Linked DNA regions of Homo sapiens: region 2 is linked to region 1. The links come from fine-mapping of genetic effects on gene expression. Tissue or cell type: monocytes after R848. Region 1 holds a variant in brackets; the other region holds the start of a gene. All regions are shown on one strand. Distances are from middle to middle.

Evidence for each region. PIP is the estimated chance that this variant, and not a neighbour inherited with it, causes the effect.
Region 2: it holds the start of MAP3K5-AS1, and the variant in region 1 is fine-mapped to the expression of MAP3K5-AS1 in monocytes after R848 (Quach 2016, PIP 0.90).

The regions. Positions count from the first base shown.
Region 1 is chr6:136,590,771-136,598,954 of GRCh38, reverse strand. MAP3K5 (mitogen-activated protein kinase kinase kinase 5) reads left to right here. Exons shown (of 30, transcript NM_005923.4): 22 at 6,341-6,518; 23 at 6,614-6,782. Among named protein-coding and RNA genes, the nearest start is that of MAP3K5-AS1, 34 kb to the left of the region's middle. RefSeq lists an enhancer at 4,307-4,466. The variant G/C (reference allele first, on the strand shown) is at 4,332.
Region 2 is chr6:136,624,492-136,632,675 of GRCh38, reverse strand. MAP3K5-AS1 (MAP3K5 antisense RNA 1) reads right to left here and starts at 3,562. Exons shown (of 3, transcript NR_125858.1): 1 at 3,400-3,562. The region is part of intron 14 of MAP3K5 (mitogen-activated protein kinase kinase kinase 5); the gene reads left to right. It also overlaps the pseudogene RNA5SP219.

The DNA.
Region 1 (8,184 bases):
AAGTGATCTACCACCTCGGCCTCCCAAAGTGCTGGGATTACATGTGCCACCATGCCTTGCCTAAAATCCCATTTGATTGTTCCCAGGTATTATAGGAAATGGCCTGCCTCATGTCAATTGAAACAATGACCTATTAGCTCGTCTTACTCTCCTTCTAGATGAGTACAAGATACAGGCCTCTTCCTTCCCCAGGTACTTTCTATAGGCCATATATGTGTTTCTGTCCAGAGCACAGGCCCACCTCTCAAGGTTCTCTACCTCCCATAACTGCACTTGGCTTCCCCTCAAGAGGGGAGTAAGAGGGTGGTGACAATGAGACCCCCTTCCCCTTTAGAGAGGGACATGACTTGTCTCATCCTGACTGCTCTTCCATGGCCACACACAGACCCAGAGATTTAAGTAATTCATGTCAGCTTAAATATTAATTGTACAGTTATGGTGTGCACAGGAAATGTGCTAGGCCCTGAACGTATAAGGATGATAAAGACAGAGTTCCTGATTTTAAAGAGCCATTGACCTTATAGGAGAAAAACACTGGAAAAAATCATCTCCACCATAGTATAGTTTAGTCTGTGCAGAGGAGTCAAAAGGGAGAGACAGTGACTGAAGTCAGTCTGAGAATGCTGTTTCAAGGCAGACTTTCCAGTGAGGTGCACCTGATGAGTAAGGACAAATATGAACTTAACAGGTGAATGGGGAGTGGAGATCCAGGTGAGGCGACTTCTCGCATGAGTTAATGCCAGGATGTGTGAAACTTTACTGTGTGTTAAGGGAGGCTTGCTGGCTCAGCAGCACTGGTGCTTAAAGTAAAAGGGGAGGGATGATGCTGGAGTGGGGAGCAGGCTCAGATCCCAAAGGGCTCCTTATGAAATGTTAAGGAATCAGCAAGGAGGGTTGGGGAGCCGGGGAAAATTTTTATCTGAAATAATATTATAGACCAGCACTGGACCTATGATTCTACAGTAAGAGAAATGTCATTTATCTGCCCTGTCCAATACATTAGCCACTAGTCATATGTGGCTATTAGACACTAAACATGGCTACCATGGCTGAGGCACTGAATTTTTATTATTTAAATGTCAGTGTTAATAACCATATGTGGGTAGTAGTGACCATATTGGACAGTGAAGCTATTGATGGATCATTCCGATGGCTGTGTGAGGATGGTTTATTTAGTAAGATTTATTCCATAACATTTTTAACCCTCTGCTATGCACTTGGCACTAGAATGTAGGCACAAGGCACTAGGAATATAGCTATGCCTCAGTTGGTCCCAGATCCTGCCTGCATGGATCTCTTGCAATGCTTGTTAAAAATTAAAATGCCTGGCCCTTCTCAGAATCTGGAGGTGCAAGCTGGAATTCTGTACTTTTAAGTAAACCCAGATGATTCTTGTCATCACTGCAGTGTGAGAACCACTATTCTATGTTTGGCCAGTTGGAGACTGGAGGCAGGATGGCCAGTTAGGAGACTCTGTGTTGTGGCCAGACTGTTCCTAAACTGTCTAGGAGAAGGAGAACCATAAAGATCCCTAGTGATCATGAATAGCTGTTAGGATCTGAGGCCACCCTCACAGCAATGGAAGGGATTTAGAAAATCCCCGTTTTCCCAAAGCAGGAATGTATCTAATTCCTTAAAGGTCGCACTGTCTCCCTTCCATAGATGGGAGCTCCCAGCAATCTGGAGTCCATAGGGTTGCCAGTCACCCCTCCTGACTCCAGCCTACTCCTGGCCTCTTGGTAAAGCTATCTCTTAGGGGATATGGGGCTCACACCCCTTCCCATCAGCCCCTGAAATAAGGCAATGAGAATCATCTCCTTAGAGACACACCTTTGACATGTCCTATCCTCAGAGAGGTTCATTCAGCCTCTTTTAGACTCTTCGTGGTCAGCCCCATAGAGGAGGGCTTCTTAATACCTGGCAAGATATCAGCAGTAAGGCTGCCTGTGACTGGAAATCCTGCCAGGCTCCTCTCTTGCAGCCTGGGGTCCCAATCACTCACGTGTATGAGCTTATGTTCGAGGAACTTGTAACCTCTGTGATATCTGGAAACTGTCACCGTGCTCCCCTGGAAATAGTTACACTTGAGCTTCTTCCCATTTACAGTGACACAGAAAGGCACTACGCATTCTCACTTGCCTGGAAATCGTCATAACTTAAGAAGGTAGAAATCTCAGGCGTGGATTTGATCATATTTCCACCACAAACGTATAAAGCAAACTGTCTCAGCACCACCTGTCTTGCTCTTTCCACCCCTTACAATAGAGAAAACATCCATTTTCCTACAGAAGGCCAATCCCTCACAGATGAGTTCTGGCTCCTGTGGAGCCCCCGTGACTCCTCCAGCTTCTGCCTCTCCCAGTGAGTTCCATATACACATGCTCTAATGTCTTTTGTCCTAAACCCGTCCTTCCCCTGATCTACAAATGGCCTCACTGGCTGACACCACCACCTTTTTTTGCCCCACATCACAGCTTCCCGTCTTGAAGTACAGTGTCTCCAGATCTCCACCTCTTCCTTCCCACCCATGTAGCGTCTCCCCTTCCACGCGATCACTGGGCCTGCTCTGGCCAAGATCTAATGAGATCTCTTTAGCCAAATCCAACAAGTGCCTTTCTCAACCTACTCAACTTCTCAGTGGCTCTCAGCCTGGATGACTGTTCTCTCTTACTTTCGCCCTCTCCTGTGTGGGCTTCCATGACACCCCATTTTCTCTGTTTTCCTCCAACCTCATGGCTGCTCCTTGTCATTCTCCTTGGCTGCCTGTTCATCCCCTTCTTTTCCTCTAAATATTGGCATTCTTAAGGGCCGGGTCTATGCTGTCTTTTTATCTTTCCCCAAATTATGTCATCCTTTACTTTAAATACCATCTCCAGCCAGGTAGGCTGCTGAGGTTCTATCTAGCCCAGTCTTCTGAGCTCCAGACTCATATCCAATTGCTTTTTTCTTTTTTAGATGGAGTCTTGCTGGCGGCTGGAGTGCAGTGGCATGATCTTGGCTCACTGCAACTTCCGCCTCCTGGGTTCAAGCAATTCTCCTGCCTCAGCCTCCTGAGTAGCTGTCACTACAGGCACACACCACCATGTCAGGCTAATTTTTGTATTTTTAGTAGAAGCGAGGTTTCACCATGTTGGTGTCTTGAACTCCCAACATGAGATAATCCTCCTGCCTCAGCCTCCCAAAGTGCTGGGATTACAGCCGTGAGCCACCGCGCCCAGCCGCCCAATTGCCGTCTTCATTTTTCAAACTGAACTGTCAAATAACACCCCTTATCCACTAAAAAGAACTTTCCTTTTTGGCCTGTATTATTTCTCATCTTAGAATATAAGTACGATATGCATCCATTCAGTTTCTTAGGCCAGAATTCTACTTTGGAGTCATTTTTGATTCTTCCTTTTCACACTCTTCACTCCAGTCCATCAGCAACTCCTGCTGGCTACCTGACATATAGTAGATGATCCACAACTGTATGTTGGATGAATGAATGCATGTGCCTAATAGAGAAGGGGACTCAATCTAGAATCAGGTTCACTCATTTAAAATCAAGCAGGCCGGGTGCGGTGGCTCAACACCTGTAATCCCAGAACTTTGGGAGGCCGAAGCAGGTGGATTACTTGATGTCAGGAGTTTGAGACCAGCCTGGCCGACATGGCGAAACCCTATACAAAAATTAGCCAGGGGTGGTGGCACATGCCTGTAATCCCAGCTACTTGGGAGGCTGAGGCAGGAAAATCACTTGAACCTAGGAGGCGGAGGTTGTAGTGAGCCAAGATCATGCCACTGCACTCCAGCCTGAGCAAAATAGTGTGACTCTGTCTCAAAAATAAAATAAAATCAAACCGAGGAGGGAATCAGGGCTCTGCACATAGAACATGCAGAATATCTGTAAGTCCCTTTATTTCCTTAACGAGCCATAGTGACAGGCACTCGGTTCCATCCTTAAGCATATACAGTTTTACCTCATTAGGCCTCCTTTTAGGCAGTCGGTAGTCACAGCAACGTTAAAATTCACAGGCGTGACACAAGTCCTCTCATTACTGGATAATCAAACCACATGATATGACCAAAAAGCCAAAATACAGGATAATTCAAGTCCTTACTCCTTCTCTTCTTTAGATACACATACATTTACCACACACACACACACACACAAACACGGAAACACACGATAGGAATCCCTCATCTTGTACTCTTCTAGTCTAGTCTGTACTAGTCTCTTTACTCCCAAGAAACAACAATTTTGTCTTTGAAATATGAATGATGCACACCTCCGTTTCTGAGTGTGGCATGCATCTCATAAAAATGGGCTGGTGAAGAAACTCACCAAGTCT[G/C]AAGGATCAGCAGTGAGTTCCACTGCAGGGCTTGTATCCCTTCTTGTAAAGAGATCAGCTACTCAGTCAAGCCAAGAGCTCTTCTTCAGCTGTATTCTTCCATCAGTAACATTTAACTTTAGGGACTTGACATCTCATAGCAGTGAAACTCTTTCTCCCAAGCAGCTATTTTTTTCTGTTCTAAAGTCCGTTCCCCCCAAATAGCGAGATGTTGACTCTAAAGTGAAACAAGGCACACTATAGACCTTGACCTTCCCCAGGAATGACTCAAAAGCAGTTTGGTGTTTGGGCCCCCCTTCAAACCTTTCTTCTCTCAGACAACCTTACTATTACCAGCAAGGAAGAGGTCACCCATTTCCTTTCTGCTGTAGCAGCACTGCCCAAAATATGGTCCGTGAAATGCTAGGCCCATGAGCTGCTCCAGAATATGTGGAAACAATACATGCCAGGCATTTCCCCTGCCATATATCATTTGCATACTGGTACTTAATTGGTCAATTCAGCAACTCTTTGTGGCTTCCTCTTGCTTCCTGCCTTCTAGTGATTCAGCTACAGAACTATTTAAATAACAGCAGATAAGTCAACCAATTCATCCTGGGGAGACTTTCCAGTTACTGACCAGTAAGGTGGTTTCCCCCGAGGTCAGCTGTTCCTGAAAGCTGTATGTACTTCCGTCTTTCTCGCTACAGCTGAAACCAATGTCATGAGTCCCCTATCCTTGAGATCAGGGCAGTTGATTCAGTTCAGCCCAAGAGGAATTAAGTAAGAAGGAGATTCCAGGCAACAGTGGATTTCCTTTTCTATAATTTTATACCTTCATTCTTTATTAAAATGCTTTTGTAGCATTAGGATGTGTGTTTGATAAAGATGTTTCTGGCAAAAACCACTTTCTTTTTTTTTTTTTTTTTTGCATATCTGTCCATAGGATAGATCATGGACAGTATTTTATTGTGATTCAGATACCCGTTTCTCTCATTAGGAGTGAGGCTGAGAAGTTTTATATACATTTGGGAGCTTTTTGTGTTTTTCTTTCTGTGAACTGTTCAGGCATACATATACAGAGACTGACTAGCTGTCCTCCAGACCTGTTTCCTTTTCCTTCTGGGGTTTCCCAGCCTCCTGGCAAGTAACTGTGGCTGGTGGACTGAGGCTTGGGCAATGGATGGTGGGCCCGAGTGGCAACTCACCCAAGCATGATTCATAAAAACTTCCTATGAGATCCTCCTACTCTTTCTTCCCCATCTGCTGGAAAGATGTTGACACCCAGAGCAACCTATGAAGCTTTCTTTAAAACCAATGTTTGAGGAAATATAGGCAACTCCACTGTCTTATTCTCCATCCAAATAAAGAAGCAGCTCATGTCTACTAGAGAATCATAGTATCTGAGAACCAGGACAGACCTAAGAGATCATCTAGTCCATCTGTTTCCAAAATTTGTTTTCAGTGATGAATCCTTTTTTATATGAATCCTTAAGCAGAACTGTGATATATGACAGTCAGCATATTTTCTCTGGTTTCAGGTATAACAGGATTGGAACCTGTGGTCTAGACCTACAGCATCCCACTCACTCATCCCAACCAAGGCAGCCCCAAGATGCTAATGGAGACACTTAAGCCCCTGAAGAACAGGCTTAAAGATTATCAATCTGACCCTGAATTTGATAAATATGAAAACTGAGACCCATAAATAGAAATAATTAGTAGTCAGTAAAAATGAGGGGATCAGACCCTCAGTAGACCCACTGAACTTGGGCTTCCTTGACTGTTTTGGTACCCCAGAGATATCCCTCCCAGGGCCTGGGAGGCCCTTTCCTGGCTACCCTGCTGTATGGGTTATGCTGAGCAAGGGAGGCAGTCATAACACATGACCGTTCCCTTACATAGCATAATTATGCTGCTCATTGCAACAAGATATTTGACAAAGAATATGGCCTCTTTCAATGGGTGTTTCAGTATGTGTACATTTTTTAAAGTGTCAATTATCTTTTCCCTCCTCTCATCACAAGCAGAATATCTCAGGAGTATATCCTTGCCGGTACCTGTGCTGGTGGAGGACACCAGCAGCAGCAGTGAGTACGGCTCAGTTTCACCCGACACGGAGTTGAAAGTGGACCCCTTCTCTTTCAAAACAAGAGCCAAGTCCTGCGGAGAAAGAGATGTCAAGGGAATTCGGACACTCTTTTTGGGGTAAAGACCTGACTTACTTGGGGTGAGAGAAGTGTGTTGTTAAGTGTGTCATTTTATAAAGGGAACTGTGATTTATGCTGCATAAATTTTCTCAGCATTCCAGATGAGAATTTTGAAGATCACAGTGCTCCTCCTTCCCCTGAAGAAAAAGATTCTGGATTCTTCATGCTGAGGAAGGACAGTGAGAGGCGAGCTACCCTTCACAGGATCCTGACGGAAGACCAAGACAAAATTGTGAGAAACCTAATGGAATCTTTAGCTCAGGTAAATCCTCTCCCAGGTGCTTCATTTCCCAAAGGTTACATATTTTATCTGTGTCCTAACCGCCTGCAGCTGTCACAGATGATGTGAAAGGCAAGAGGAACCTGTAGTGATCATCATGATAAACCTACCCCACAGGAAAAAAGAAGGCAAACCCTATGGTAGGGAATATATTAATATGAAAATAGGGAAATGATTTTTTCATTGCATTTTTGAACATAAGCTATTTTTAAGTCAGAAGCAAATTTTTCACATTGGTGACATTCCAAATAGCCCCTACAAGCCTCTTTTACTCTTCATTCATTTGTTTATTCATTCCATCAATAAACACACATTAAGCCATGTGAGTTGCTAATTCTGACATTAGCATGAGGCTACCTGCCAGTCGCTCCTCTCAGCATTTGGGAAACATCAGCAAATACAACAGAACCCCTGAGCTTGTAAGGTTATATTTAAAAGGAGGGTGAAGGGCAAAGGGAAGTAAATTGTAGTGAGTCTTCACTTAATGTAGTTGATAAGTCCTTGGAAACTGTGACTGAAGCAAAATTACATATAACCAAACCAGTTTTGCCGTAGACTAATTGACATAAACAAGAGTTAAGTTCCTATGGCATATTTCTGGTCACAAAAACATGACCAAACTCCTAAATAAAGACTAAAACACTTCTAATATTCTACATTGAAATAAATGTGAACTCTATATACATTTAAGAAAGATGAATAAAAACAAGATAACTATCTACCCAGTTCAAGGCCATGGGTGGCCAGAGCCTATTCTGGCAGCTCAGTACCAGGCGGGCACCCGCCCTGGAAAGGACACTATTCCACTGCAGGGTACATACACACACACACCCACACTGAGACCACGTAGACACACAAATGAACCTAACGTGCACATCCTTGGGATGCGGAGGAAACTATATGTATTAGTCTGTTCTCATGCTACTAATAAAGACATACCTGAGACTGGGTAATTTATAAAGGAAAGAAGTTTAACTGATTCACAGTTCCACATGGCTGGGGAGGCCTCACAATCATGGTGGAAGGTGAATGAGGAGCAAAGTCACATCTTACGTGGCGGCAGGCAAGAGAGCTTGTGCAGGGGAATTCCCATTTGTAAAACCATCAGATCTCATGAGACTTATTCACTATCATGAGAACATCACAGGAAAGACCCACCCCCATGATTCAGTTACCTCCCACTTGGTCCCTCCCATGACACATGGGGATTATGGGAGCTACAATTCAAGATGAGATTTGGGTGGGGACACAGCCAAACCATATCACCAGAGTACCCCAGGTAAGGCCACACAGACATTGAGAAAATGTGCAAATTTGCCAGGTGTGATGGCTCATGCCTGTAATCCCAGCACTTTGGGAGGCTGAGGCGGGTGGATCACGAGGT
Region 2 (8,184 bases), 34 kb before region 1:
TCATCTTCTTGGTCACTCCCCTGATCTCAGGTCTTCATCCTCTATCATAGCCTAACATGTCTCATGCTTTGTCTCTGTTATCATCAGAGAAATCTCTCATACAGATTTAATCCTGCGACTCCCCAGATTAAAAACCTTTGATGCTCCTTTTTGTTTTTTGATACAGAGTCTCACTCTGTCACCCAGGTGGGAGAGCAGTGGCGCAATCTCGGCTCACTGCAACCTCCGCCTCCTAGGTTCAAGCAATTCTCCTGCCTCAGCCTCCTAAGTAGCTGGGACTACAGGCATGCACCACCATGCCCAGCTAATTTTTATATTTTTAGTATGGAGTTTCACCATGTTGGCCAGGCTGGCTTTGAATTCCTGACCTCAAGTGATCTGCCTGCCTTGGCCTCCCAAAATGCTGGGATTACGGACACGAGCCACCATGCCCAGCTGATGCTCCTTTTTGTAGAAGGAAGTATTTGCACCATACAACATTCTCACCCCCTCTGGCTGTAGCTTCCCCTTTCCTTTCCACTCTGTGGTCCAGCGGTGCCAGCCTCCTTTCCACTTTCCAGGTGGCCATGCTTCTCCGGCCTCTGGGCTTGACATGCAGACGCCCAACCTCACAAACTTTTCTCCTCAGTCCCACTTAGTGACCAAAGCCTTAATTTTTCAGATCCAGGTCCTGTGTCCTTTTCTCTTTGAATCATTTCTCAACTCCCCTTCTTGCTTTTCTCTGTTCTCTTAGCATTTTGGCCCACTCCTCTGGCCTAGCTCTTCTCCATGCATTGTAATCTGGTAGCCTGCACTGGACTGGACTGTTAATGTCCCATGGCAGGATGGTGGCTTTTTGCCCTTTTTAATCACATGAGCTCACATGGTGCCAGGTGTCCAAGTAAAAGAGATTCAATCTGAAGGGTTTGAAGCTGGGCAGTGACAAAATCAGAGTTGTTTTAATATTAGGTTGTAGCAATAATGGCAAAAACCACAATTACTTTTGCACCAACCTAATATCTCAAACTGGGAGGAGAGAGATATGGATGGGAGAAGGCCTCCAATCCATATGGACCTCTCTGCTTGAGCCCGAGAGGTCAAGGCTGCAGTGAGCTAGGATTGCGCCACTGCACTCCAGCCTTGGTGACAGAGCCAGACCCTGTCTAAAAAAAAAAAAGAAAAAAAAAAGTGACATTATTTTCATTTGACTCAAATATCTGCAGGAAGATGGAAGACCTTACTGTTTTCTTTTCTGATGATTGGCCTCATATACCTTAGTAATTATGGTTCAGAATTTATTTTAGTCAGTTTGGAATCATCATGTAGCAAACTCTTTTTTAACATCCTATTTCTATTTTTGTGCAGATATGAAGCTGAATACCCACAGTTACTTCCCTGCCTGAGAAAATACATCACTTATAGTGTTGTATGATATGAGTATCAATTTGTTATTCATTCATTCATTCTGTTGGGAACGGGGAAAAGCCTTTTTCTTGTACCAGCTTATGTTCAATGGTCAGGGGCCTGCAAATTAACTGACAAAAGACAAGTTGACAGGAGAGCAGACAAACTTTATTCTTTTGTTTTGTTTTATTTTTGAAACAGAATCTCCCTCTGTCCCCCAGGCTGGAGTGCAGTGGTGTGATCTCGGCTCATTGCAGCCTCTATCTCTTGGGCTCAAGCGATCCTCCCACCTCAGCCTTCTGAGTAGCTGGGACTAAGGTGTGCACCACCATGCCTGACTAATTTTTGTGCTTTTTATAGAGACAGGGTTTCACCATGTTGCCTAAGCTGCTGCCTTGGCCTCCCAAAATGCAGAGATTACAGATGTGAGCCACCATGCCTAGCCAAAATTTATTCATGTAGTCAATGCTAAGTCAATGAAAGAGACTTACACAAAGAATTGGCTCCCTAAACAGCTAGAGTTGAGTGTTTATATATCATCTTAGTAAGAAAGAGGGTTAAGACTTTAAGAAAGTGTATGGTGGGAGACTAATGAGAAATAAGTGTGAGGAACAGAAAGTTTTGATAAGGTTTTGTTTATGCAACATCTCCTCTAGGTGCAAGTGGTCTATCTCCTCTTTGGTCATTAACCTCCTGGAGAGGAAATAAATGGCAGATGTATTTTAGGAGGCATTGCTTATGTCCGCAAAAGAAATTTAGATAAGGTTTTTTTCTGCTGCTGCTGTTTTTCTGATGTTTTCAGCCTAAAATCATCTTCATCCACATCAGTGGGTCCAAATGGATCTCACTAATGCACTCACATATTTTTGGACAGCTATTGAATGGTAGGCACCATTCCATGTGCTGGAGAGATGGCAGAGAACAAAATGGAGAGAAATTCCTGCTATCACTGAGAGCTTACATGCTCTCATCTAAGTCTTAATCGGGCCCAACTCTGCTTAGCTTCCGAGATCAGAAGAGATTGGACGCATTCAGGGTGGTATAGCTGTAGACTCAGGTTACTTTCTAATGAGAGACGGACAATAAACACAAATAAGTAAAATACCATCTATAGTATGTTAGATGGTGATCAGGGTTAAGGAGAATAATAAACCAGGGAAGGGTTTAGGAAGTTACAGTGTAGCAGGGACGTGCAATTTTAGATAGGAAGGCCTGGGAAGCTCATTAAGAAGGTAAGATTTAGGCCGGGTGTGGTGGCTCATGCCTGTAATCCCAGCACTTTGGGAGGCAGAGGAGTTGGATTGTTTGAGGTCAGGAGTTTGAGACCAACCTGGCTAAAATGGCGAAACCCCATCTCTACTGAAAATACAAAAATTAGCCGGGCATGGTGGCAAGCGCCTGTAATCCCAGCTACTCGGGAGGCTAAAGCAGGAGAATCGCTTGAACCTAGGCACTCCAGCCTGGGCGACAGAGTGAGACTCTAAATAAATAAATAAATAAATAAATAAATAAATAAATAAATAAATGAAGGTGAGATATGGCCGGGCGCCATGGCTCACACCTGTAATCTCAGCACTTTGGGAGACCAAGGCGGGTGGATCATGAGGTCAGGAGATTGAGACCATCCTGGCTAACAAGGTGAAAGCCCATCTCTACTAAAAATACAAAAAATTAGCTGGGTGTGGTGGCGGGCACCTGTAGTCCCAGCTGCTCGGGAGGCTGAGGCAGGAGAATGGCGTGAACCTGGGAGGCGGAGCTTGCAGCGAGCTGAGATTGTGCCACTGCACTCCAGCCTGGGCGACAGAGCGTGACTCCTTCTCAAAAAAAAAGGTGAGATGTGAGTAAAGATCTAAGGGAGGAGAGATCCATCACACTAGATATTTGTACCTGCAGTGTTTTTGGCATTCTATTAATGTTATTAGTAGTTATTAATGTTTTGGCATTTACATATAAAGAAGGCCATACAGACTGAACATTAACAGAGCTGCCATTTGGGTCTTTGAGGTGATTACTCACCTAATGTGATTAAGCCCCCGCCGAAAGTGCATGGTTTTTTCTAAGGTGGTTGTTTCCTTCGAGAGTGCAAGGACTCAGTGAGTCACCACTTCGTTGTTTGGCCTTGTCAATGTTGCCTTCCTACACTGATTCTCTTCCCGCTACCAGTTTTGATTGTTCTGAGCAGACAGCAATAAAGAGATGATTCTAGAAAAATTCTCATGATTGCCTCAGAATGAAATTCTTGTTTCCCTTAGCAACAACCTGATTTGCTAACCTATTACCATAGAAATAGAATGCAAAATATATAAGCAATGTAATGTTACCTTTTATTTTTTAAAACCCTCTCTTCTACTATTCCTGGACATTACATAGATGATTCTCTGTCCTTCTAGGCTGAACCAGTCTCTTGTTTCTTTTCAGCTTTCTTTCAAAACTGCCATTTCAATTTCTATCTTTATCTCGTAAGAATAGAAAGGGGAGATAGAAAAACAAAGCAGCAATTACCCACAGAGATGGTTTTACTTAAATAACACTGCTCTTTTTACAATTCCTTTTCATTTTACTATCACCATTTTGTTTAACAGGAGTCAGCTTCTATATCTAATCTTCTATATCTAATACATAATCTTTTAAATCTGTATCTAATACGTAATCTTTTAAAAAATAGTCTTCTGATGCCTTAGATTCCTAGGGGAAATTAAAACTTTAGCAGCCTCATCAAGGTTTATGTATTCTTCACTCTTCTATATAAGCATACCTGTTGTAGAGCTGGACCTGGTGGTGTGCACCTGAGTCCCAGCTATTTGGGAGGATCACTTGAGCCCAGGACTTTGAGTCCAGCCTGGGTAACATAGCAGGACTCCATCTCTTTAAAAAAAAAAACTGCTGAGTATGATGGCTCCCACCTGTACTCCCAGTGGTTGGGAGGCCGAGGCAGCAGGATCAGTTGAGGCCAGGAGTTCAAGGCCAGCCTGGGCAACATAGCAAGACCCCATCTCTACAAAAAATAGAAAAAATTAGCTGGACATAGTGCTGTACACCTGAAGTCCCAGCTGTTGAGGAGGCTGAAGTGGGAGGATTGCTTGAACCTAGGAGTTCAAGGCTGCAATGAGCTATGATGGCACCACTGCACTCCGGCCTAGGCGACAGAGCAAAACACTCTTTAAAAAAAAAAAAAGATTTAAATATATCTATTGGAAAAATGCTTTCACCCAAGAATAAACCAATAATGACTCTAAATGTTTTGTTTTGGGATCTAGTTCTTTTCTAAAAAAGTTCTCATCACATTTTTCTATAACTTGATTAATTAGTTAAGCAAATAATTACTGAGCATCTACTACAAGCTACATGCTAAAACTGGGGATAGAGTAATTAAGGATGAAGTCCCAAGTCTCGAAGAGCTCAAGTGTCCAGACGAGGATGACAGAGGTAGCCGTAAGATCTTGAAGGGCATTGTCTTGGTCCATCCAGGCCGCTATAACAAAATGCCTTAGGCTGGGTAATTTATACCCAATAGAAATGCTTTGCTCACAGTTCCAGAGGCTGAGAAATCCAAGATCAAGGCACCAGCAGATTCAGTGTCTGGTGAGGGCCTACTTCCTCTAGATGGTACCTTCTGTGGGTGCTCACATGGCTGAAGGCTCAACCAGGCTCCTTCAAGCCTCTTTCATAAGGGGACTAATCCCATTCATGAGAGCTCTAGCCTCATGACCTAATCACCTTCTAAAGGGCCTAACTCTTAATACATTGTGATTCGGTTTCAACATACAGATTTTGAGGGCGCTGAAGAGGGGGGTACGCAAACATTCAGACCATAGCAGGCATTTATGCTGTGCTAAGGAGTTTGGATTTCATCCGGAAAGTAACAAGCTGCCAATAAAATAGATGCAGTGGCACTGACATGGAAAGTTCATGTGGAACTTTGGACTTTGGAAAGTTCACTGTCAATTTAGTGGAGAATAAATTGGGGAATGGAGCAACAAGAGAGGAGAAAAGCCTCTGAACTTTTTTTTTGCAGAGAAGTGCTTTTCTTCTGTGCTACTTCTACAGAGATTCTGAGGCAACTCCGGTGAGAATAAGGAGGTAAAATGGATTTGTGAGATTTTAAGAAGAAAAATCTGAGAACAGTTGGCAATAAATTTGAAATACATAGTAAAAGAAGGAAAAAAACAAAATTCTAAGAGGACAGTGGCTACCAGATGTCTGCTAAAAAAAAGCAAATGGATGTTCCATGGATATTAACAATATACTGTAATATCTTTATAACACTGGTATTTGGAAACAACTAATAATCACCCTGTAAGCTCTTATTCTATGATAGGGTTTCCCTAATGCATAGGTAGTGGAAAGGATACAAAATCTGGAATCTCACAAGCTGGTTTCAAACCACAACTCTGATATATTTTCACTGGAAAAAAAAATTTCTGATCATTTGTAAATTGAAAGTAATCAGAAACCTATTACACATGCTTATGATGATAAGTGAGGTGGGTTATTGAAAGTTGGTTTTTTTTTTCCTTTAAGATTATAAAGCATTGTAGTGTAAAATGGTGGTGGTACTAGATGGAGTGTATAGGTTTCTAATCCTTTGAGAGGGCACATCGGCAAAGTTGAGCTTCTTTACCTGCTGCTGGCTGGGTCCCACTGGTGGAATTCCAGCGTGGCAGGCACAGCATTGCAGAAGTCTAGACTACAGGAATTGGGTGTGGAGACTTGGGCTCCTTCAGGTGGCGTTGTTTGGATTATGCTTCCTGTCTCCTCGCAGGAGCCCAGTTTTAACTCTGAGTTAGAGCATGTTGCTAAATGATCCCTGCTGCCTGTTCCTTCCCTCTGATCACCTATCACCTGGTCACTCTGATCATCTACCCTGGACCAAGACAGTCTTCAGCTTTATGTTAGGCAGCCAGAACAGGGCTATTCTCTAATGTGCCACTGGATACTTGGCAATGGGTAAGTAGTCATCTCCCTTCCAGAGCTTGGCCTCTGTCCTGAGCCAGAGAAGAATTCATGCTAAGGAGGCCAGTGCTCACTCCAGCCCTAGCATTGTATTAGGCATAATTTTCCCCAGAAGACACCACCCGACTGCCTTCTATAAGGGCCTGAAAACCTGTTGGAAACAAATAACCTGGAGCTGGTAGGGACATGCTCCACCCCAGCCCCATCCTCTCGAGTCATGCGTGTGTACCCAAGAGTTTGCAGAGCGATCTGATGAGCTACCTTTGTAGGTAATTTGCCCTTTTATGATCTTTTTGTCTTTCGTATTTTGTAGTTTCCCTATGTCATATCTCAGTGAGTTTGTTTTTATTTTTCCTATTTAGGGCTGAATTTCTGGAAGTTGTATTCAATTCTCTTTCAAGTCTGGCCTTTTTTAGAATATCTTATCTTCTCATTTTTAAATATTTTATATCTTTATGTTAAATGTACATATTTTATAACTATATTCTATCATTTCTGACTTAATGAAGTCTTGAGGATTGAGATTTGTCATATATGTTTTCACTGATGTTGAATTGTTTCCTTACATAGTTTATATTTTTTGGATTGTGAGTTCAACTTTAGTGGTGCATTATCAGTAAGAATTCTGCATAGCAAACTTCAAGGGGTCTGCCATGAAAATGTTTTTGCTTTGTTTCTGCCAGGCACTCCAGGGATATCCCAGGCTCAAGAGCAATTATGAGTATTATAATAAGTGTTAATTTGAAGTTCAAACAGCACCAGGATCAGCTGTGGTTGAAAGTGTTTAGAGAAGACCTATTTTTGCTCCTCCAGAGCTCAGTCTTGAGACAAACCAGCTTTCTTTTTGTTTCACAGTGTAGTGGGCTGACTTTTCTGATCTACCCTTTCACCAAGGGCCTGGTTTTGTGTGTTTCTGCTCTTTGCCTGGCGTAGGCACTAGGCCATACTTCCTATCCCCTCCTGGGCATTAAGACCCAAGCCCCACATGAGAGGTCAGCAAACTATAGCCCCAGGATCAAATCCAGCTCACTCTTAATCTTGGTAAATAAAGCCTTATTGGAACATAAGCATGCCCATTTGTTTATATATCAGCTGGGCTGCTTTCACATCACAATGGCAGAATTGAGTAGTTGCTACAAAGACTAGATGGCCCTCAAAGCTAAAACATTCACTATCTGACCTTTTACCAAAAAAAAAGCAGACAAATTCCCGCCCTAGATTAATGAAACTGAAAATCTTGCCTTCATCCCCACCCTTTGGGCTGCAGGAGTTCTTGTGATTACCTGCTAGTATTCCTTTCCTCTTCATTTCTAGCTTCTGCAGTCACCTTTACTCTTTAGTAAGCCCAGCTAGACATTTAAAAGTATGTCTGTTTTATTTTACCTATGTGTTTTTAGCAGGAAGGTTCTCAGGTATCTGGTCTACCATCTTGCCAAATCCAGAGCCTCTCTTCTACTGTCTTGGTAGCAATATGTTATTCTTTTTCTGTTTCCTTGACTTGACCATTAAACTTATTCATGTTAAATTTTTATTTTCTAATGGATTTTTTTAAGATCATGAAATTTTTCATCTACCTAACTCCATATCTATGGAATTTGATAAATAATGTTTTTCTTCTCATTTAAAAAATTACTGTGTAATTCCCATGGTCATTTCCTTTTTAACCCATTGGTTATTTTAAAGGAAAGTAAAATATACTTTTGGCTGTCTTATTTTTAGTATTCTGTGCTCAGAGATCATGGTCTTTATGATATCAGTTCTTTGGAATTTGTTGAAATTTTTCTTTGTTGTCTAATATGTAATCAGTTATAATATATTTTTCATGTATGCATGAAAGGAATCTGTATC